Linked DNA regions of Homo sapiens. The protein of the gene in region 1 purifies or fractionates together with the protein of each later gene. This does not show direct contact. Each region holds a gene or a part of one and is shown in the gene's direction. Other genes may lie near its edges.

Region 1 (8,065 bases):
GCACCAGCATTCACAAAATTTTTTGACCTGCATTGTCATAGGAGAATGACACCTTAAACAAAAACCAGGCACAGAGGAGTCTGACTAGGTAACTGAGATGAGAGAAGAAGGGACCTTTTTTCCTCATTTTATTGAGATGGGTCTCACTATGTTGCCCAAGCTGGTCTCAAATTCCTGGGCTCAATTGATCCTCCCACCTCAGCCTCCCAAGTAATGGGGACTATAGGAAACAGCCACCATGCCCAGCGAGAAGGGTACTTCATACAGATTTAATTCTACATTGGAAACCAACCTTGAGAAAAAGCCTACATTGTGTGTGTGTGTGTTGGGGCAGGGAGCGGTGTGTATGCTTCTGTCCAGATCTGAGTTCCTGAAAATCATAGTGTCTTATCCAGCTTTGTATCCCCAGTATCTAGTATAGTGCCTTATATATACTAAGTGCTTAATAAATGGTTATGACATGAATTACGGTTTGGATGAGTCCTTGTGCCACTGGAAACCCTCTCGAGATCACATTTAGAGGACTGCCACAGCAGCATGTCTGAGAGTCTTAGTTTGTTTAGTTTAACGCATTCTCTAACATGATGATTAACCCTCATGTAATCTCAGTCACAATTTTATCACTATAGATATTAATGAGCATGTTGAATCCAGCTGCTGCTGTGGTTTTACGTCCAGAATACCATAAGCCTATAAAATCCATTCCATTGGAAAGCAGAGTGGCCTTACATTAATTTCTAAGCTTTACACAACAATTAGGCAAAATTAGACAAGACTTCATGCTTTTTAAGTCCAAAGATTCCCTTTCTAGTTTTATTATGAAGCCAATACATCGAAGAATACTTTCCTCCCACAGTGCTTAAGACCAGTGCTAGATTACAAATACATAAATGGGCCATGACTTCCACCCCACCCACAAAATGATCCAGGCAGGAAATTCCAACTTGCTTGTCCATTGCTCAATCTACCCTTTGCTAAAGGAAGACATTTCTAGGTGAGGACATTTATAGTCAAATAAATTCTAAATGATAATGTTCAGTAACAGATCTTCTGAGCAAGGAAATATATCCACCTGTCTGGAAAAGACTCAAATTCTGTGTCACTTGTAATGGGCCAGTATGGAGTCTAAGCTGATGACAAAGCATCTCCTAGCTCTTCCCCTTCCTCTTCAGCTCTCCGGCTGTAACTCTGGGGAGGCTGTAGAGGCACAACATTCTCCTCTCTGGATTCTTCACTCATTACCTGTAAATGCTACATCACATGATCTCAGTTTCTTCAAATACCCTCTCTGTTGACTGCATGTTAATCTGTTCAATAGGTATTTTTATCCCAAAATAATGCAGGACCCAGAGGTGGAGAAATCTGTGGATTTGTGGTGGAAGAGAAATTATGAAAAGAAAAACTGAGCCAGATCCTGGTGAAGCAATTCTAGGGTTAGCAAGAAAACCAATTAGAAAAGAACTATAGTCTAAGGAGCCACATAGAGTTGAGAACCTGCTTACATTCATTCATTCCTTTCACACTTTTCCTTGAGTATCTATTACATATTGGTCATCTGCTAAGTTCTGTAATACAAAGATGAATGAGACCCTCCCCTTGAATTACTCACATTAAACAGTGGCGAGATTGTCTCTAATTGCTATGGCATACATGTGTACAAATATGCTTTGAAGAAGTCAGTTCTAAGTGATACCAAGGCTGCCTCACACTTAGACAATAAGAGAATCAGAGAGAAAAGCTTGTCATTCAGACAGTAGGTAGATTCAAACAGAAGATGTATGACAGAGAATAACTATTGACATAAATAGAGGCCAAAGATGGTGAAAAGGTGAGAGGGTGGGAGTGGTGTGCAAGACCCTGGAAGAGACTTTTGGGATGCAGGAGATCTGGGGATCCAGGTTGATTCTGGACATTTTAGAAATGCCATTCCTAAAGGTTAGATAAAGGATATAATTTGTTGTGGAGATTAAACTCTCTAGCCCTCCCCTACCATTTTCCATTCATCACATGGGATTGCAGCTACCTACCTTGAGTGGTTTGAGTTTAGGAAAGTTTTAGCTGAGGGAATCAACTGAAAGGAGTAAAAGTCACTGGTTCAGCAACAAACTGGCAGAGATCCATGTCCATGTCATTTGTTTGGCCTAGAGCCAATATTAATATTTTTATTGATGTTTTTTGGAAGGATGAGTCAAGACTCTATAGCGTAATTTGATGGATAACACAAAGACAAAAATTAACAGAATTACTAGACTTCTGTCCTTAGTGATTATTTACAGTTTAGGTGTTTATTTTCTGTCTTTTTCAACTAGACTGTAAGTTCCATGAGGGCAGGAACTTTGTCTTGTTTGTTCTTATTTTCCTAACATGTAGAATGGCGCCTGCAAATAACAGTTGCTCAGTAAGTAGTTTTACATTGCTTGAACCACAGTGATAGGCTGTGATGAGTACTGTGATAGCAGTATGCACTGGTGCTATGAGAGCACAGCATTCACTCTGTCTTGAGGTTCAGGGTAGGCTTCAGAGAGAAGGTGACATTTGAGCTTGAAGAGTGAGTAGCACTTCATGAAATAGAATGAGAGAGAATGGTATTTCTTTTTTTTTTTTTTTTTTTTTGAGAATGGTATTTCAGAAAGGGTGGAACACCATGAATAAAGCAATGTGTTATTAAAAAAATAGTATGTTTGGGGGATAATAAAAAGTTTATCTTTTGAATTCTGATACTTAAATAGTCAACAGTATGCATGGGAAGTAAATTTCCTTCCATACAGGCATACATTACTTCATGCAATAGTTGTGAAACAAGGACCACAGGGAGATGCAAGCAAATTACGTTTAAAAGACTATGGAGTAAAATTCTTTTGTCAGGTGGATTAATCTATCCCTAATGAATCTCTCCCGAGAAGCTTTTCCCTCCAAAGGTCTATCTTTTTCCAAGACGTTTATTCAGGGAGGTATCCTTCATATCTCCCTGAAAAGAAAGAAAAGTAAATAGTGGCTAATGCTTTTAACAATGATTAAAAAAATCAGAAAGGTCAAGGCTTTAAGGTCATTTAATGTGAAGAGGAAATAAGATAAATGTTCAGCATTTAAGGATTATCACTAACCCAACTTTTCATAAACACAGAATAGTGGAGGTGGAACCTGCAGAGACTTTTATTCAGGGAACATCCACTGCGGGACAGGCAGATGCTTTGGTATCCAGGCTGCTCCGCGCCGCCAGCTGCCCAAGTAATCCTCACAACAGCCCGCAGAGGTAGGTATTAACCACCCTTTGTTTTACAGGTGAGGAAACAGAGGCACAAGACGGTCAGGTAACCGGCTTGGAGTGATGAATGAAACTAAAATAAGCGCCGACCTCGAAGCTCATTTGGTCTTTCCCCAACCCCATGCGGCCTCATTAAAGAGACTTTTTTGATTAGCTATGGAGAAAACGTTCTTCATCAAACATGAAATGCAATCCGGAAGGCACAGGTTTCTCTCTCTCTCTCTCTCTCTCTCTCTCTCTCTCTCTCTCTCTCTCTCTCTCTCTCTCTCTCTCTCTCTCTCTCTCTCTCTCTCTCTCTCTCTCTCTCTCTCTCTCTGTCTGTATGAAGTGGCTTCTGGGGCCCCACGAAGCAATGTTCCCCCAAACAGCCCCGGACGAGGGTGTCTATAATTCATCCTGTTATAATTAACCCCGGGGTTACGGTATTGCTTCTAAAGCCCTTGTTGAAATGCAGATATGGACCTCGCAGGATTGACACGATCTCTCAATTACACCTAATTAAAGAGCTGGCTCTTTGAGAATCTGACCCGACTGGGCCAGGAGTGGGAAAGGCGGGGGCTGCCGGTTGGGGTGAGGGATAGGGTTCTGCAGTCCCGGGAAGGCAGGTGAAGGGTGGGGATCAGGATTGGAAGAGTCACTGGGTGCTCGGTGAGACGAGGGAGGTTGGAGCTGAACTAAAACAAAGTTTGACTTCTGGACAATTATCCAGGGAGAGGGCGGGGAACACACCTTGCCCGGACTGTCTGGGAATCCCATTGACAGGTCATCTCAGGTTCACCATCTTCCTGTCGTGGGCTCCTCCAGGGAGGCCACCCGGGAGCAATTAAACTGGGCCACACCAGCCACCTCCCACAGCAGCGGGGTCCGCAGATTTAACCCTTTCCCCCCAGATTCCGGCACTGGGTGCCGCGCTCTCTCCCCCAGCACCGCGCCCGCGCCCCCGGCTCCCGGACTGGGCATGCTCAGTAGCCGCCCGCTTCGTGCTCCCAGGGAAGCCTCTGCACGCCCTCCCCCGCTGCTCTCGGTCGCCTCCTCGCCGCCAGCCGCCCCGGGTGCATCCCGGCTTGCTCCGCTCCACGCGACCCAGATTCCTGCCCCGCCCCCGCCCCTTCCGCGCCCGCAGCCAGTGCGGCAGCCGCGGCCGCCCCTGTCCAGCCTCGGCGCCCGGGACCGAGCGCGTCGCTCGCCGCCGCGGAGCGCGTAGCCGGAGCGCCTGGGGAAGGCGGAGATGAAGACCACGCCGCCGCGCGCCGGGAGCTGCTGAGCCTACCGCCGCCAGAGTCCAGGTGATTGGCGACCCCAGAGGAGCCTAGGGAGTAGGGGCGAATGCCCTTGGGGAGGAGAGAGGTGCGGCGAGGACGCGAGGCATCACGCAAGCTGCGCTGTGCCTGGGAGGCAGCAGAAATGCTAAGCATCGGGGGCAGAGAGGGAACGGGAATGAAAGTGCACTCTGCCTTGGTGCAGGGGCTCCGGGGTCACCCAGGACAGTGATTTCCCCTTCTATCCTGTCCTCCCAATTAACACCCGAGAGGCTGCAGGTCGGCGCGAGAGGCTGTTTGCATCTCGGCCCGGGCGTAGGTCGCCTAGCGACCTAACGCCGAGGGCTCGGGGAAGGGATCCCAGACAGAGCCAAAATGGAAGGCGGGACAAGGGCGGCCTGGCTGGGGCGAGGGGCTGGTCTGGGTCCCTGGGAACCCCTTGCCTTGTGGGCTTCGGTCTCCAGGGAGGAGCTAGGCAGCCGGGCTGCGGGGCCGCCGGACTGTGGGGTCCTCCGCGCAGCGAGCTGGGAGGAGCGGTCGGCTGGGCTGTTGAGCTGCGCCTCCTCCAACTGCTGGGAAACTCCGCACTTCAATATTGGAGCATCTCTTTCCCGGGCAGGTAGAATTGGACAGCCGAGTGGGGAGTGACAGCTGACAGCTGACGGGGCTGTTAAAAGCAGAGCAGTGGAGTGTGGTGGTGGGGTGAGCTGTTGTGGGTGCTTTTTTTTGTTTTCCAAGTGTGGGTACGGGCTGTTCTGACTCAGTGTTTATGCTCAACCTCTAAGCGGCGAGTTCGGTAACACATCTTATGAATATTTCAGGAACGACCTCACGGGCTCACTTGCTTCAGATCAAGTTTAATGAATATGTTGTCAGCCTTTCTGCTCTGCACAGTGCCCTGAGCTTTCCACATTTCATCCCTTTCCCCCACCACCTAGGAAAATACGCTGCTAACCCCCAGTGGGCCGTAGATTGGTACTATCAATTGAGTCTGTCATTTGGAGAGACCAATTTTGGGCAGGCATCCAGGCATTGTTCTGCATCTCTGCAATGTATACGTTTTGTGCCGGTGGCTTGACAACCGTCCTTAACTGGTGCTGCCAATATGGTGGAAAGCAGGTAGTATGCTTGTATTGGGATAAATGTCTTAATTCATTAACCTATTATGACAACACGTAGTTACAGCAGACTTAGTCATTCCCTCCCCCAGAAGTTTTCTCGGGGGTCAGTTTAGTTGGTATTTTGCCAAAGGCACACTCTTGTATCTACATTGGGAGGTATTTCTCTCATCTTAATCTTTTTCATAGGAAGAAGAAATAAATGTCTTCTCTGTAAGACATCACTGTCAAGAACACTGAAAGAAGAACCCATTAACGTAGGGAACGTTGAGGACTGGAACAGGTTGTAGGGCGTCTTCCTACACTTTGGGTTATAACTTCCATTGCATCACCACCATTTACCAGTAAACCAGCACACACAGCAATCAGTACTCGAAATGGTTCTCTTTTGCAGAAAAAGCCTGCTTTTCTCCCAGCTTTGGTGAGATAGATACGTAATCTTCGTAAAGACCTATAAGGAATTCCTCTGTGGAACAAAATTTTAAGCCTCCAGTACAGGATGCTGAAAGAAGCAACTCTTTAATCTTGCCAGCCCATGCACAGTGAAGCTGAAGTGCTTCAATTTACAGATGTTTTACATTTAGGGAAGGCTTTTCCAACAAAGACCTACCGCAGTTACATCACAGGCTCCACCTCCGCCTGCCAGGCTGCTTCTGCAAGGCTGTTAGTAAGGATACTATGTATTGCTGTGCTTGATTAATGAAGAAAATAAATCTCCAAATCAAAGATTTGTTTATTTCTCTTTTTGCATTCTGCTGATTTAATTGAAAATATGAAAATTTCAAAAATTAATACTTGCAGCCAGGACTTAACTGAGGCATGATAATAACTCTATAAATGTTAGCTTTCCAAGAGATCTTAAGCAAAATTACAGTATTCTTTGTAAAATCTTCGATAAATTGTATTATAAGAAAAATTCTATGAAATGGACAAAATAAGTGAAAATGTCATGTAATAAATTAAGCAGCATTTCTTAAAGCACGTTACTGAGATGTTCAGAAAGAAACCTAGTTGCATTAACAGACATGAAATCTGGATGATTGAGAAGTTTGCGGAGCTTGCATACAAATCCCCAGGTGCATTAAAGGAAGCGTTCTCCGAGTCCTCTGAGAATTTTTAACAAAGCACTGTTAGGTTTTCCAGATTTAGCAAATAAAAAGGTGGGCTGCCCAGTTAAATTTGAATTTCAGATAAACAGTGAATTATTGTTTTTACCTATGTCCCATGTAATATTTGGTACGAACTTATACTACAAAATATTATTAGTTGTTTATCCTAAATTCAGTTTCGACTGGGCAGCCTGTATTTTTCTGGCAACCTTAGTTACTGGAAATGTTTCATTCCTCCTTTTTGGGTCATTTATGGGTTGAAAAAATAAAGTGGAGCAGAAATCATATGCTGTTCTGCAGACAATCTGGGACAAGCTCAGTTCTGGTTCAAGCTTTTGAAAATAACTCATGCTTAAAAGTGAACAGTTTCACTTCAACACATATTGGTTGGGTATCTCTGCTTGCTAGGCTTAGTGGAAGGTGCCAAGGATGCAAAGATGACATGGGGAAATGGGGCAGGGGGAGGGATCTGCATCATAAGTTCTGGGAGTTGCTGTGCCAGTAGTGTGTGTTTATGGTGGTGGTGGAGGGGCGTGTCTACTGTAGGAGCCTAGAAGAGGCACTGAATTATGCTGGGCAGCTGTAGTCAGGGAGTGAGACGCCTAGCAGTTTTGACAGGGCTGGCCTTGAATAAGAGAGCGAGATCTTATCCTGGGCGAAAATGAGAAAAAAAAAAAATCTCTGTGTTAATAGTTAGTAGAGTGGTGCTGGAAGTTGAAGGATTTGATCTGATAGCCTCAGTGAGAGGACAGAGTGGCCTGCTGAGAATGAGGGAAGGGAGGGGGATTCTGAAAGAAAGATTTTAAATAGTTGCCAATGGGAATGGAAGAGAGAGCTGAAAAGGGACAAGTGCAGGAATTAGCAAATGGTACTTCGGTGAATGGACCTCAGTGCATTTAAAATAGCAATTGATCTGCTCTTGACTCATACCCTAAGTGCTAGTTTACTATTCTGTTACCATCTTGGTCTCCTCAGGTAAAAAGTTGTCATCACACAATACTGGAATATATCATTTAAATGTTTTATTACAATTATATAAAAGTAGATAATTAAATATAATATTTGAGATGCCGATCAATAGTCAGTTTCTTCTTGGCACAAATTTCTGAAATAAGATAAGCAGATGTCTTGGTTTTAGCAAATCTGTTGCTTCAAGTAGGAAAAGAAATTAAATTGAGATCATTTCTGATTTGATCCAGCTATCTTTAAAAAACTAGATTCTGATGATGGAAAGAGTGTACATTTTACAGAAATAGCACTATGTGAAAATGACTCTATGCTTGTAGTACCACAGAGGACCTAGTCAGAATGTTC
Region 2 (8,003 bases), about 110 Mb from region 1:
AGTGGGGACAAGACCTCGGTGAGCGATGGGCCCAGCCCGAGGGGGACGATCTGAGCTCTGCAGTCTGGAGAGTGGGAGGCTCTGCAGCGGGCCCGGACACAGGTGAGCCCAGGCACGCCCTCACCGCCCCCTCTCGACCCACAGGGCTTCCGGCCCATCGCCAAGCCGGCCTACAGCCCAGCCTCCTGGTCCTCCCGCTCCGCCGTGGATCTGAGCTGCAGTCGGAGGCTGAGTTCAGCCCACAACGGGGGCAGCGCCTTTGGGGCCGCTGGGTACGGGGGTGCCCAGCCCACCCCTCCCATGCCCACCAGGCCCGTGTCCTTCCATGAGCGCGGTGGGGTTGGGAGCCGGGCCGACTATGACACACTCTCCCTGCGCTCGCTGCGGCTGGGGCCCGGGGGCCTGGACGACCGCTACAGCCTGGTGTCTGAGCAGCTGGAGCCCGCGGCCACCTCCACCTACAGGGCCTTTGCGTACGAGCGCCAGGCCAGCTCCAGCTCCAGCCGGGCAGGGGGGCTGGACTGGCCCGAGGCCACTGAGGTTTCCCCGAGCCGGACCATCCGTGCCCCTGCCGTGCGGACCCTGCAGCGATTCCAGAGCAGCCACCGGAGCCGCGGGGTAGGCGGGGCAGTGCCGGGGGCCGTCCTGGAGCCAGTGGCTCGAGCGCCATCTGTGCGCAGCCTCAGCCTCAGCCTGGCTGACTCGGGCCACCTGCCGGACGTGCATGGGTTCAACAGCTACGGTAGCCACCGAACCCTGCAGAGACTCAGCAGCGGGTGAGCGGCTGGGCCCGGCTCAGGGAGGGGGCTTCTACCACGGGCCCAGCCTGAACCCAAAGTTAGCCTGACCCCTGACCCCTGGCTCCGCAGTTTTGATGACATTGACCTGCCCTCAGCAGTCAAGTACCTCATGGCTTCAGACCCCAACCTGCAGGTGCTGGGAGCGGCCTACATCCAGCACAAGTGCTACAGCGATGCAGCCGCCAAGAAGCAGGTGACCACCCCGACCACCCACTCGCTGCCCCCTGGTGACCTCCTTCGTGGGCCCCACCACCTCCCACTGTCCTCTGCTCACTGAGCACCCCTCATGATCCCCAAGCTGACTGGGTAGACCCCACTCTGTCTGGAGCCCCCTCAGCAGAGGAAGAGCAGAAGGATACAATTTGGATACACCAGTATCACCTGCATCACCTCCGTACCCCCACATATACCTCATCACCTCCGTACACCCGCACACACCTGCGTCACCTCCGTACCCCCACATATACCTCATCACCTCCATACCCCCGCACACACCTCCGTCACCTCCGTACCCCCGCACACACCTGCATCACCTCCATACCCCCACACACACCTGCGTCACCTCCGTACCCCCGCACACACCTGCGTCACCTCCGTACCCCCGCACACACCTCCGTCACCTCCGTACCCCCGCACACACCTGTGTCACCTCCCTACCCCCACATATACCTCATCACCTCCGTACACCCGCACATACCTGCGTCACCTCCCTACCCCCACATATACCTCATCACCTCCGTACCCCCGCACACACCTGCGTCACCTCCCTACCCCCACATATACCTCATCACCTCCGTACACCCGCACACACCTGCGTCACCTCCCTACCCCCGCACACACCTGCGTCACCTCCGTACCCCTGCACACACCTCCGTCACCTCCGTACCCCCGCACACACCTGCGTCACCTCCCTACCCCCGCACACACCTGCGTCACCTCCGTACCCCCGCACACACCTGCGTCACCTCCCTACCCCCGCACACACCTGCGTCACCTCCGTACCCCCGCACACACCTCTGTCACCTCCCTACCCCCGCACACACCTGCATCACCTCCGTACCCCCGCACACACCTGCGTCACCTCCGTACCCCCGCACACACCTGCGTCACCTCCCTACCCCCGCACACACCTGCGTCACCTCCCTACCCCCGCACACACCTGCGTCACCTCCCTACCCCCGCACACACCTGCGTCACCTCCCTACCCCCGCACACACCTGCGTCACCTCCGTACCCCCGCACACACCTGCGTCACCTCCCTACCCCCGCACACACCTGCGTCACCTCCGTACCCCCGCACACACCTCCGTCACCTCCGTACCCCCGCACACACCTGCGTCACCTCCGTACCCCCGCACACACCTCCGTCACCTCCCTACCGCCGCACACACCTCCGTCACCTCCCTATACGGCTGCATCCCCTGCATATCTACATCTACGCACCTGGACACAGCTGCACACAGGTGCATAGTCTGCATCCATCCACATGCGTCTGTGCACCCCCATATGCCTGTGCCCGCAGGCCCGCAGCCTTCAGGCCGTGCCTAGGCTGGTGAAGCTCTTCAACCACGCCAACCAGGAAGTGCAGCGCCATGCCACAGGTGCCATGCGCAACCTCATCTACGACAACGCTGACAACAAGCTGGCCCTGGTGGAGGAGAACGGGATCTTCGAGCTGCTGCGGACACTGCGGGAGCAGGATGATGAGCTTCGCAAAAATGTCACAGGTGCTGCCTGTCCCCTCCTCCACCTGTCCTTCCTCCACCTGCGCCCCTCTGCCTATCCCCCCTGCCTTCCTCCCCACCTGCCCCCCTCCACCTGCCCACCATCTGCCCCCCTTCTCCACCTGCCCCCTCTGCCACCTGCCCCCCTACTCCTCCTCCCCCCCTCTGCCTTACCCCCCCACCTGCCCGCCATCTGCCCCACTCCTCCACCTGCCCCCTCCTCCACCTGCCCCCTCTGCCTGTCCCCTACTCCTCCTGTCCTCCCTCTGTGTCCCCCCCACCTGGCCCCCCTCCTCCACCTGCCCCCTCTGCCTATCCCCCACCTGTCCCCCCCTCCACCTGTCCCCCTTTTCTGCCTGTCCCCCTCCTCCTGTCCCTCCTCTGCCTGTCCTCTCTCCTCCGTTCTGACCCCTCCACCTCATTCGGTTCCCCTCCGTCCCTTTGTACCTTTTGCCGGCCGTGTTTCTACTTGGGCCTCCACTGCCCGCCTCTTTCCTGGACCCCCGGCCACCCTGTCCTGTGGTTTTGTCTCCTTGGAGCCGCCTGCACTGCCAGGCCTGCTCACCACCCCACCCCCACATCTTGTCCCCTCTTGCTTGGTCCCAGCTCTATCACCTCAAATGCCACCCCAGGGTCTCCCCAGTGGGGCTCGTGGGTGAGGCACAGAACACCAGGCCAGCCCCTGGGGAGAGGCGGGACCTCTTCACACCATCCCCAGAAACGCGGAGGGGGTTGGAGGGCAGACGCTGATAGCAGCCTCCCCCGTCCTCCAGGGATCCTGTGGAACCTTTCATCCAGCGACCACCTGAAGGACCGCCTGGCCAGAGACACGCTGGAGCAGCTCACAGACCTGGTGTTGAGCCCCCTGTCGGGGGCTGGGGGTCCCCCCCTCATCCAGCAGAACGCCTCGGAGGCAGAGATCTTCTACAACGCCACCGGCTTCCTCAGGTGCGCCAGCCTCGGGCAGCGGGGTGGGGATTGCAGGCGCGGGTCACTGTGGGGACTCCGCCTGGCCTGGCGTTCGCAGCCCACACACCGCACGCCTCGCGCTGGGGATGGGCGTGCGAGGGCCCACGATGGGTTGGGGCAAGGCCCGGGATGCGGGGTCCCTGGGGGGCTCTGATCCACCTCGGTCCCCAGGAACCTCAGCTCAGCCTCTCAGGCCACTCGCCAGAAGATGCGGGAGTGCCACGGGCTGGTGGACGCCCTGGTCACCTCTATCAACCACGCCCTGGACGCGGGCAAATGCGAGGACAAGGTGAGGGGCGCGGTGTGGAGGAGGGGCCGTGCCCCCGGGCCGCCGCTCTGACCCGCGCCCCTGCCCCGCGCCCCCGCCCGCAGAGCGTGGAGAACGCGGTGTGCGTCCTGCGGAACCTGTCCTACCGCCTCTACGACGAGATGCCGCCGTCCGCGCTGCAGCGGCTGGAGGGTCGCGGCCGCAGGGACCTGGCGGGGGCGCCGCCGGGAGAGGTCGTGGGCTGCTTCACGCCGCAGAGCCGGCGGCTGCGCGAGGTGGGCACCAGCCTGAGCGGGGCGTGGGGTGGGTGCTGCGACCCCGGCCCCGCTGACCCCGGCCCCGCTCACCCCCGCCCCGCTCACCCCCGCCCCGCTCACCCCGCCCCGCTCACCCCGGACCCCGCTCACCCCCGCCCCGCTCACCCCCGACCCCGCTCACACCCGCCCCGCTCACCCCCGCCCCGCTCACCCCCGCCCCGCTCACCCCGGACCCCGCTCACCCCCGCCCCGCTCACCCCCGGCCCCGCTCACACCCGCCCCGCTCACCCCCGCCCCGCTCACCCCGGACCCCGCTCACCCCGGACCCCGCTCACACCCGCCCCGCTCACACCCGGCCCCGCTCACCCCCGCCCCGCTCACCCCCGGCCCGCTCACACCCGGCCCCGCTCACACCCGGCCCCGCTCACACCCGCCCCGCTCACCCCCGGCCCCGCTCACACCTGCCCCGCTCACACCCGGCCCCGCTCACACCCGGCCCCGCTCACACCCGGCCCGCTCACACCCGCCCCGCTCACCCCCGGCCCCGCTCACACCCGGCCCCGTTCACACCCGCCCCGCTCACACCCGCCCCGCTCACCCCCGGCCCGCTCACACCCGCCCCGCTCACCCCCGGCCCGCTCACACCCGGCCCCGCTCACACCCGGCCCCGCTCACACCCGCCCCGCTCACCCCCGGCCCCGCTCACACCCGCCCCGCTCACACCCGGCCCCGCTCACACCCGGCCCGCTCACACCCGCCCCGCTCACACCCGCCCCGCTCACACCCGCCCCGCTCACCCCCGGCCCCGCTCACCCCCGGCCCCGTTCACACCCGCCCCGCTCACACCCGCCCCGCTCACCCCCGGCCCGCTCACCCCCGGCCCCGCTCACACCCGGCCCCGCTCACACCCGCCCCGCTCACACCCGGCCCCGCTCACACCCGGCCCCGCTCACACCCGGCCCCGCTCACACCCGCCCCGCTCACCCCCGCCCCGCTCACCCCCGGCCCCGCTCACCCCCGGCCCCGCTCACCCCCGACCCCGCTCACCCCCGACCCCGCTCACCCCCGCCCCGCTCACCCCCGCCCCGCTCACCCCCGACCCCCGGCCCCGCTCACCCCCGACCCCCGGCCCCGCTCACCCCCGGCTCCACTGACCCCGGCCCCGCTCACCCCGGACCCCGCTCACCCCCGACCCCCGGCCCCGCTCACCCCCGGCTCCACTGACCCCGGCCCCGCTCACCCCGGACCCCGCTCACCCCCGACCCCCGGCCCCGCTCACCCCCGACCCCCGGCCCCGCTCACCCCCGGCTCCACTGACCCCGGCCCCGCTCACCCCGGACCCCGCTCACCCCCGACCCCCGGCCCCGCTCACCCCCGGCTCCACTGACCCCGGCCCCGCTCACCCCGGACCCCGCTCACCCCCGACCCCCGGCCCCGCTCACCCCCGGCTCCACTGACCCCGGCCCCGCTCACCCCGACCCCGCTCACCCCAGACCCCCGGCCCCGCTCACCCCCGGCTCCACTGACCCCGGCCCCGCTCACCCCGGACCCCGCTCACCCCCGACCCCCGGCCCCGCTCACCCCCGGCTCCACTGACCCCGGCCCCGCTCACCCCGGACCCCGCTCACCCCCGACCCCCGGCCCCGCTCACCCCCGACCCCCGGCCCCGCTCACCCCCGGCTCCACTGACCCCGGCCCCGCTCACCCCGGACCCCGCTCACCCCCGACCCCCGGCCCCGCTCACCCCCGGCTCCACTGACCCCGGCCCCGCTCACCCCGGACCCCGCTCACCCCCGACCCCCGGCCCCGCTCACCCCCGGCTCCACTGACCCCGGCCCCGCTCACCCCGACCCCGCTCACCCCCGACCCCCGGCCCCGCTCACCCCCGGCCCCGCTCACCCCGACCCCGCTCACCCCCGACCCCCGGCCCCGCTCACCCCCGACCCGCTCACCCCGACCCCGCTCACCCCCGACCCCCGGCCCCGCTCACCCCCGACCCGCTCACCCCGACCCCGCTCACCCCCGCCCCGCTCACCCCTGCCCCGCTCACCCCGGGCCCCGCTCACCCCCGGCCCCGCTCACCCCGACCCCGCTCACCCCCGACCCCCGGCCCCGCTCACCCCCGGCCCCGCTCACCCCCGCCCCGCTCACCCCCGCCCCGCTCACCCCGGGACCCGCTCACCCCGACCCCGCTCACCCCGGACCCCGCTCACCCCCGCCCCGCTCACCCCGGACCCCGCTCACCCCCGACCCCCGGCCCCGCTCACCCCCGCCCCGCTCACCCCGGACCCCGCTCACCCCCGCCCCACTCACACCCGACCCGCTCACCCCGACCCGCTCACCCCGACCCGCTCACCCCGACCCCGCCGACTCCTCCCCGCCCTGCGCAGCTGCCCCTCGCCGCCGATGCGCTCACCTTCGCGGAGGTGTCCAAGGACCCCAAGGGCCTCGAGTGGCTGTGGAGCCCCCAGATCGTGGGGCTGTACAACCGGCTGCTGCAGCGCTGCGAGCTCAACCGGCACACGACGGAGGCGGCCGCCGGGGCGCTGCAGAACATCACGGCAGGCGACCGCAGGGTGGGGCACCCAACCCAGACCCGAGGGGGTCCCAGGGGTTCATGCGGTTGAGGGGGGGACAGAGGAGGGAGAGGGAGGGGAGGAGGAAGGGGACGCCCAGGGTCCGCGGAGCCTCGGAGGTCAGCGTCCCGGTGGCGCAGGCCTTGGGCCTTGGGAGGATGGAAGTCCTGCCCTGGGTTTGAAGGGAGGCACCTGATCCGGGCTGCGGCTGATTCCCCCCGGCTGGGGGGCAAAGGCAGAAGCAGAGGCCCCCCTGAGGGTGGCGAGAGGATGCAGCGACCCCATTGTGGCAGGACCCCCTCAGGTGAGGGTCTGAGGCCTCCGGGTCACGGCTCACACCCTCCCTCCCCACAGTGGGCGGGGGTGCTGAGCCGCCTGGCCCTGGAGCAGGAGCGTATTCTGAACCCCCTGCTAGACCGTGTCAGGACCGCCGACCACCACCAGCTGCGCTCACTGACTGGCCTCATCCGAAACCTGTCTCGGAACGCTAGGAACAAGGACGAGATGTGTGAGTCGGGCAGCCCCTCGTCCCTGCCCTGCTGGACCCACATGTCAATTTTGTCTTTAAGTGTGGGCTTCAGACCACTGGGGCCAGTCCAGCTCCCTGGGGGAGGCAGGGGACCCCAGGTGCCCAGGTGGCCAGGAGTAGGGGTGCAGACTGACCCCCGGCCTCCCACAGCCACGAAGGTGGTGAGCCACCTGATCGAGAAGCTGCCGGGCAGCGTGGGTGAGAAGTCGCCCCCAGCCGAGGTGCTGGTCAACATCATAGCTGTGCTCAACAACCTGGTGGTGGCCAGCCCCATCGCTGCCCGAGACCTGCTGTATTTTGACGGACTCCGAAAGCTCATCTTCATCAAGAAGAAGCGGGACAGGTAGGGGCCGACCCAGCCGTGCAGCAGCCTGGTCAGGGGTCCTCCCAGTCCACCCTGCTTTCTGGCTGTGTGTCCCCTCCTGACTGCCCTCCACCCTCAGCCCCGACAGTGAGAAGTCCTCCCGGGCAGCATCCAGCCTCCTGGCCAACCTGTGGCAGTACAACAAGCTCCACCGTGACTTCCGGGCGGTACGTTTCCCGAGCCCAGGGCAAGCAGGGACCCGGGTGCAGGGCATGGGACGCCGGGGGAGGGTCAGTGAAGAGGCCCATGGGAGGATGGAGACCAGGGACCCAGAGAGGAAGGGTCCGGGCCACACCCAGCACACTGCAGGAGGGACAGCGGGCAGAGGGCCACATGGGCAGACATGCACCCTGACCTTGGGCCTCTCTCCACTGTAGAAGGGCTATCGGAAGGAGGACTTCCTGGGCCCATAGGTGAAGCCTTCTGGAGGAGAAGGTGACGTGGCCCAGCGTCCAAGGGACAGACTCAGCTCCAGGCTGCTTGGCAGCCCAGCCTGGAGGAGAAGGCTAATGACGG
Region 3 (8,003 bases), on another chromosome or scaffold:
TGGAGGCATGTTCATGACACACCAGGCATTCTGGGCTTCAGTACAATGGCACAGAAGAGTTGATGAGGGCTGATGAGCGCAGGTGACCCTGCGGTAGGAAGCAAGTAGAAGAGACTAGAACAGAGAATTAGCCTCTGGGCTCTGGGTGAGTGCCTAAACTAAGACTGGTCACAGAAGTGGAAAGATCACCAAACAAAAATTTCCCAAAAAGGGCCCTCCTTTCCCCATAGAGTTTTTTTAAACATATAGATCCTCAGAGGAAGAATACTTCATACATTTTAGGTTGCCCTTGCAATATTTAGGTTTCATGGGGATCAAAAGCTGGGTTCTAAAATTAAAGAGAAGTAAATTTGTCAAACTGTATTGTTGCTGTTTTCAGGGATGAGCACTAATTAAAATGTAATCATTTCAAGGCATAAAAAATAACAGCTGACTTTTGGTGAGGATTTCTTTTTTGAAATAATCTGTGAGGTTTCAAAGCTATGCAAAGATCATGAGTGATTCTCACAATGATATTAGACACATTTTCCCAGAATATAACTCTACAGCAATTGAGTAGTGGTTTCGGGTAAGCTTTGAGTTAGCGGTTCTCAACCCTAGTTGTACATAAGAATTAGTTAAAGGTCTTCCAAAATTACTCATACTAGAGTCATACTCAAGATGAGACCAAGCATCAGCATGTTCAAGCCCTTTGGTGAGACTAATGTGCAGTTCAGGGCTAAAAACCCAGTGCCAGCTGCATTTCCAGAACGTTAGCACTAAGAATTTCAAGACTTTTTCCTGACCCAGACAAAGAAAGCATGAGAGTTGTTCAACTGATGGATTGTAGAATAGGAGAGGAATACCCCTATGGACACTTGTTTTCAATGGAGAAGCCCATGGTCTATTTTAGGAGAGAGGGGGCAGTGTGATGGTAGTGGGAGGGATCTGAGCCCAAACCTATGTTCCCAAAGGGCCTCAAATTGACACTTTTGATGTTAGCTCCAAATGAGATTACACATACAGTAATTGTATTGGGTATGTGCTAAAAACACTTCATTTCATTTATTAGATAGTGCCTTTGTTAGAGTTCAGGCCTGCAATGGTACATGATCCAGCTCACATTTAAATTCACAGAAATATAGAATAGGCAGAACCATGGCCTAGGGGCTACCAATTTTAGTTTTAGTCCTTTTCCAGAAAATGCTATGGAAATGTATAACTTGACCTTTCACTGTTCATAGTGCAGATGGCAAAATTGCCAAATTAATTGTTGTAATAAGACTAAAGCTGATTTTGCAACTTTGATAGTCTCTTCTTTTGTATCTGTTTTTAATTTTTAATTTTTGTGGGTACATAATAGGTGTACATATTTATGGGGTACATTAGCTGCTTTGATACAGGCATGCAATGTGAAATAATCACATCCTGGAGAATGGGGCATCCATCCCCTCAAGCATTTATCCTTCTATTCTTTATCTTTAATTAACCCACTTAGTAAAATGCATGCCATGCTAGAGAATTAGGAAAGTATGAAAAGCAACCAGAGTGGGCCCAAAGAACTAAACAGAGTGTATTCTAGAATCTTAGAAAACTTAAGCAGTGTCTATATTTATGGATTAAAATACAGAATTGAGGTGATTATTAGGGTAACAAATAGGAAATTTCCTCTTAAGAAACACTTGGATAGCTAAACATTTTTGATAGCTTTAATTTTTCATTATAGTCTATAAACAAAGTCTTAAAATAATTGTAAATATCTCCATTAAATTTAGTGAGTATTATTTGACTTCTATTTTAAGTGTAACTGTAATAAGGATTGAAGATAGGTCCTATCTCCAGGTCCTATAGCTGAATCCTGTATTCAATCCTCTTGATAACATATATTCATGATGCGTTTAACTTACATGTATGTGTGCATCTGCCCCAACCAGTTCAAGAGTCTTAGACTAAAGACGACCTTACTTTCCTAATCTGTCAGCAAAGAAATTCAATTACCTGATCGCAAACTCCTTGCCATCTAGCGCTAAAGTTCTATGTGATTTGGTGGTGCTGTATTTATAAACTTGGATATGTATACTCAATCCCCTAAAGGAAAAAAATGAGATTTTCTTACATATATTTGTATTTTTGTTCTAAATATACTGCCACCAAATGCTCCCCAGAATGATTCATCCAGTGACTTCCTAAACCGAGCAATGTGTGTTAACTCGACATTGTCACTTTCTTGGGCAGTGGCTCCACTCTTGCTGCTCCTGTGTTGCTGCAAACAGAGACAGCCAGAAGGCCTGGGAACAAGATTTGCTCCTGTGCCTGAGGGCGGAGAAGGAGTGATGCAGTCTTGGAGAATTGAAGGGGCCCATCCCGAGGACAGGGTAAGTGGACTGTCACTCTCCAGAGAAGTGTGGAGTTTCAGTGGAAATTGAGCATGTCTTAACAATTACATGCTGCACAAAAATGAACAGATGTCAGTTTTTAAATGTTTAACATAAAGCGTTTGTTTTTAAAATGTTTATTTTTCTTTTCAGGATGTGTCAAATATATGTGCACCCATGACAGCCTCAAATACCCAGGATCGGATGGATTCCTCTGGTCAGTAGACACCAAAATCTGTTTTTCCTTTTAAATTTTTCAAAATTATTCAACCAGACCAACTTCATGTAAAAGTACCTTATGGAAAAGTCTGTCAGTCTCTTTGGGTGACAGTATAATTAGAGGGAATGTGACCTGTTTGAAGTAGCCACTTTTTTTTTCTATCTGAAACTACAGACAGTGAAGTATGACACAGCAGTTAAAAGAGCAAACTCTGGAAGCAGAATGCTTGGGTTTGATTCCCAGCTCTGCCACTTGCTTAAGGGTTGCATATCTTTTATCCGAAATGCATAGGACCATGAGTTTGAGTTTGGCTCAAACTTTTTGTACCATGATGATCAAAAAGTTTCAGACTTAGGAGCATTTTGGATTCTTGATTATTGGATTTGGGATGCTCAACCTGTAGTAATAAGTCCTTAGTCAAGACATTTAACCTCACTGGGCCTCAGTTTCCTTATCTTTAAAATTGAGCTTATGATAGTACCTACTTTAAAGTGTTGCTGTGAGGAGTAAATAATACATATTACATATGTAATATATAATACATACATATATTGTATAGATTATTTTATTATATATAACATACATGTGTATGTGTGTCTATATATATACACACACACATATATAAGTGTGTATATATACATATATCACAAAATATACGTTAGAGTAGTGCCTGGCACTGTAGTAATTATTTATAATACAAGCTGTTTTTTTTTAAAGAGCTAAAGAAAAGGCAGTAAATGTACTCTAATAATACACTGAATAACTTTTCTTAACTTCAGACAAGCTTTTGCCTCAAAAGAGTGTCGTAAACTCTCCTATCTTACCAGCCCCACGCATATCTAACAATACTGAACACACTACTTAGCTATATGGCAATGATTGCACCAAACAGAGAGGGTGCTTAATTCTGCAGTGCACGTGAGCTTTCTCTGATGGTTCCTTAGTATCCCAAGCTTGGCCCTTTGTATGCAAAGAAACTCCGTGACTGAACATCCCTGTGAGCCCAGCTCCATCCTGTTCCGGAGTGAAGGAGGACTATGAGCTCAGTTTCTGCAATCACGCCGCTGGCCTTGCTTTGGAGGGCTCCCGGCTGGATCAAGCCCGCAGCAGCCACGGCGGGAACGGGCGCCTGCTTGTAGTTCTCTTGGCTAGTTCTACACCTTTAAGTCTAGGGCGAAGTCTGTGCAAATGTGGGAAGGCCACGTCCCACCACTGACTCCCTCTGTGTAATTAATTTACTTTTATTTGGTCAACAAGCCTGGAGATGTATCGGTGTAACTTGTATCTCTCTTTGTCAGCTTTTTAGCGCCTACGCCTTGCCGGGTGGTGGTGGCACCGCAGACGGCGGCGGCAGCGTTTTAGGCAGATGCGCGCTGCAGGCAACTCCAGCGCTGTTAAACCAACATCCTCCCTTTTCAGAAATCTACACCAACACCTATGCAGCCGGGGGCACGGTGGAAGGAGGTGTATCGGGAGTGGAGCTCAACACAGGTATGGGGACAGCCGTTGGCCTCATGGCCGCAGGGGCCGCAGGAGCCTCAGGGGCCGCAAGGAAGAGGAGCTCTACCATGGGAACCCTGCGGGACTACGCTGACGCAGACATCAACATGGCTTTCTTGGACAGCTACTTCTCGGAGGTAATGCCCTCACAGTCACACATAAAATCGTCTTGAGATTGAATAATAATAATAGTAAAATACTCACAATGGTAGTAGGCCTCTTCGGAAATATGCTGTTATTCTCAACCCTATCCCAAACCTGAATAAAAAGTATTTCACGTCTCCTTAAAACACAAAATGCTAATTTGCCACAGGATTTCATATTCAACTGCCATAGCGCATCTTAGTACCGTGAACAAGGCCACACCCCTCATCATTCTCCACTTCCCTTTTCCATTTTTCTATCTTTTGTTTCCTTGATTCCTCACCTTGTTTCCCACAGCAGTAGCAAAGCAGGAAAATGCTCATCAAGGGGAAAAAAGGTGCATTTATGACCTCTGTTTTTGATGTCCTTCATGTTCTCCCGGAGCCTCCAACAGAAAAGAGAAAATAAAAAGAATTGGGAACGAAAGGAGTTAAAACTCAGGAACGCAGCATCACCACAACTCGTGCTAGATTAAGACCTAGAAGATAGCTCTCCTATTCTCAGTCCAGTGACTTATCCACCAACTGACCTTCACTACGAAAAGGGGTCCAGCAATAGCACTGCTGGGTATATATCCAAAAGAAAGGAAATCAGTATATCAAAGAAATATATGCACCCCCATGTTTATTGCAGCACTAGTCACGTAGCCAATACATGGAATCAACCTGTGTCCATCAACTGATGATTGGACTTCTAAAATGTGATTCATATACCCAATGGAATATTATTCAGCCATAAAAAATGAAATTTTGTCATTTTGCAACAACATGGATGGAACTGGAGGACACTGTTAAGTGAAATATGCCAGGCACAGAAAGACTAATTTGACATGTTCTCACTCATCTGTGGAAGCTAAAAGGAAAAACCGAACTCATGGAGATAGAGAGTAGAATGATGGTTACTAGAGGCTGACAAGGGTAGTAGGGAGGGGAAACAGTGGGATGGTTAATAGGTGCAAAAATACTGTTAGAATGAAGAAGATCTAGTATTTGGTAGCACAACAGGATTGCTATAGTTAACAATAATTTATTACACATTTTAAAAGAACTAAAATAGAACTAGAATTTTATCTCATATTTCAGTCGGCCTGCTTTATTCTCCATCTGTTCATACATGAATTTCACCATGATTCTTTACCAAACAAATGCTGAAGATGTTGTTGCAATTGTAAACTATATCTTAAAATTGGTAGTTACAAATGCTATCACAGAATGTGCATGGATAGTATCAATTATTTTAATGAGTGATTGATACCATTATTCAGTTTATTCCGTAACAACTTAACTCAGAAGTCTCTCTGAGGGATTGCTGTTATTCTTCCTTATTTTAGGGAAAAAGAAATTTCTAATTCTGTATTTCCTTTTAATTTTAGAAAGCGTATGCTTATGCAGATGAAGATGAAGGTCGACCAGCCAATGACTGCTTGCTCATTTATGACCACGAGGGAGTCGGGTCTCCCGTAGGCTCTATTGGTTGTTGCAGTTGGATTGTGGATGACTTAGATGAAAGCTGCATGGAAACTTTAGATCCAAAATTTAGGACTCTTGCTGAGATCTGCTTAAACACAGAAATTGAACCATTTCCTTCACACCAGGCTTGTATACCAATCAGTACTGACCTCCCTTTGCTCGGACCTAATTACTTTGTTAATGAATCTTCAGGATTGACTCCCTCAGAAGTTGAATTCCAAGAAGAAATGGCAGCATCTGAACCCGTGGTCCATGGGGATATTATTGTGACTGAGACTTACGGTAATGCTGATCCATGTGTGCAACCCACTACAATTATTTTTGATCCTCAGCTTGCACCCAATGTTGTAGTAACCGAAGCAGTAATGGCACCTGTCTATGATATTCAAGGGAATATTTGTGTACCTGCTGAGTTAGCAGATTACAACAATGTAATCTATGCTGAGAGAGTACTGGCTAGTCCTGGTGTGCCTGACATGAGCAATAGTAGCACGACTGAGGGTTGTATGGGACCTGTGATGAGCGGCAATATTTTAGTAGGGCCAGAAATTCAAGTGATGCAAATGATGAGTCCAGACCTTCCCATAGGCCAAACCGTTGGCTCCACATCCCCCATGACATCTCGACACAGAGTAACACGATACAGTAACATACATTACACCCAACAGTAAGTGCTTTATGGTCAGTATTCTATGTGGAGACCTTGCACCTTGTAATCATCAATACATCCACCAAAAATATATAATGTACCATATATATTAATAGTCAACAAATACTCAGATATTCTAAGGTCAATGCCATTATTTGATTATACCATTTTGAGGGTGAATATGGCTAGGCACTTTAGATAAGCCTTTTTAAAATTCTTTCTGATTTTAAATAATGCGTCAAAAAATGTGCAGAAAATGTATTGCATCCCTTGATACTGTCTAACGAATAGCACATAACTCATATTGTGAATCCTATGGGTCTTGAGGCCTGTAGAACCAATCTTGTAAACCAAGATGCCTTGTTCTTGGAAGTTACAAAAGAAGCCCTGTCTACATCCACCAGCCATATTTTTCGTTAGGGAAATATTTATATTAAAATTTTTAATTGAAAAGTTGAATGAAATGTACATTCTGAAAGGAAATTGAAAAGGAACGTAGAGTATCTGTCAATATCTTTAGATATCTGAAGTCATTTGTCTCTTCAAAAGATTTTTCAATATTATGCGCTATTAAGCAATAGGAGATGCTTAATATAATAAGAAAAGAGTTTGCCAACTGAAAGCATGGCTGGAAATGGTTCATCAAAGAAAAATATATATTTTTATTGAACTTTATTGATTTATATGATTAACTGTAAATTAATCTAGAATAGCAAAAAAAAATGACAATCCTAAAGTAGAAAGAGTTATTGGGGAAATATTAGAGTTTTCCCCACTTACAGGGAATTTTTTCCCTACTGTTGCCAATTATGTCAGAAAAATACATGAAATATGGCTTAACCAATTTCATTGACCTGAATCGTAGAGCTTTCAATTGGCAACCAGATATTCTCCAAAAGCACTCTGTAGTTATTCATATATTCTACAATATTTACTTAGAAGCAACTAGGTGTTGGGTGCTAGTCTTGGCTCTGTGAATATACAGGTAAAGAAGACAGACATGGTTTCTGCCTTCATAGAGCTTCTATTCATTTCTAGACTTAAAATAAAACTCTGGGATATGGCTTTAAGTTCCTAACAACAATAATTAACCAACTACTTAAGTCCATTACCAAGTTGTGTTTCTCTTTGCAACACTACTGTTTATGTTGAATAAATAAAATGGAAACACATTGCTTACTTTTCGTAGGCATAAAGCTGACTTGAGAAAAAGAATCTCTAGCCAGGTAATTTTACTTAATTCTGTAAAATATGTATACAGTAGCAGCAATAATGTGACTGAGATAATGTAAATGAAATAAACTTATTTTCAAGGCTTAATCCTTTTGAAAGGAAATAATTGTAGTGTTTCTTGCCTATCTTTTGCTCCTTTATGAATAAAACTATTGTAGAATTTAAGTCATCTCAGATAACCTCTTACCTAGTTCTCTCATTTTCTGGACAATGAATCTAGAAATAGAGAGGTTAAATGACCACAACCAGCTAGTTGTGGTACAAAGCCTTGAACCCATTGTTCAGATACGCTAGCCAGTATGCTTTTTTATACTATAACTTCACCAGATCTGAAGAGGATCCAAACCTGCCTGTTGCATACTCTTTGCTATTCCCTAATTGGAAGAAAAACTCTCTCTCAAAAAATTAAGTTTTAAAGTGTAAGCGCAGACCAG

What was found. Proteins that work in one complex are often made in the same cells at the same time.
Region 2: the proteins of ELMOD1 (region 1) and PKP3 purify together in Homo sapiens (affinity purification with mass spectrometry; 2 studies listed by BioGRID and IntAct, with this or other methods). This does not show direct contact.
Region 3: the proteins of ELMOD1 (region 1) and DSG4 purify together in Homo sapiens (affinity purification with mass spectrometry; 2 studies listed by BioGRID and IntAct, with this or other methods). This does not show direct contact.

The regions. Positions count from the first base shown.
Region 1 is NC_000011.10:107,586,859-107,594,923, forward strand, and holds the start of ELMOD1 (ELMO domain-containing protein 1), read left to right. Parts: upstream 1-4,288; 5' UTR 4,289-4,551; intron 4,552-8,065. UniProt on the Homo sapiens protein: Acts as a GTPase-activating protein (GAP) toward guanine nucleotide exchange factors like ARL2, ARL3, ARF1 and ARF6, but not for GTPases outside the Arf family.
Region 2 is NC_000011.10:396,670-404,672, forward strand, and holds part of PKP3 (plakophilin-3), read left to right. Parts: coding exon 1-18; intron 19-144; coding exon 145-776; intron 777-869; coding exon 870-993; intron 994-2,322; coding exon 2,323-2,527; intron 2,528-3,297; coding exon 3,298-3,472; intron 3,473-3,664; coding exon 3,665-3,782; intron 3,783-3,865; coding exon 3,866-4,036; intron 4,037-6,408; coding exon 6,409-6,594; intron 6,595-6,948; coding exon 6,949-7,102; intron 7,103-7,273; coding exon 7,274-7,466; intron 7,467-7,566; coding exon 7,567-7,654; intron 7,655-7,864; coding exon 7,865-7,900; 3' UTR 7,901-8,003. UniProt on the Homo sapiens protein: A component of desmosome cell-cell junctions which are required for positive regulation of cellular adhesion. Required for the localization of DSG2, DSP and PKP2 to mature desmosome junctions.
Region 3 is NC_000018.10:31,407,238-31,415,240, forward strand, and holds the end of DSG4 (desmoglein-4 isoform 2 preproprotein), read left to right. Parts: intron 1-2,214; coding exon 2,215-2,354; intron 2,355-2,507; coding exon 2,508-2,571; intron 2,572-3,872; coding exon of another isoform or gene 3,873-3,993; coding exon 3,994-4,211; intron 4,212-5,590; coding exon 5,591-6,358; 3' UTR 6,359-7,672; downstream 7,673-8,003.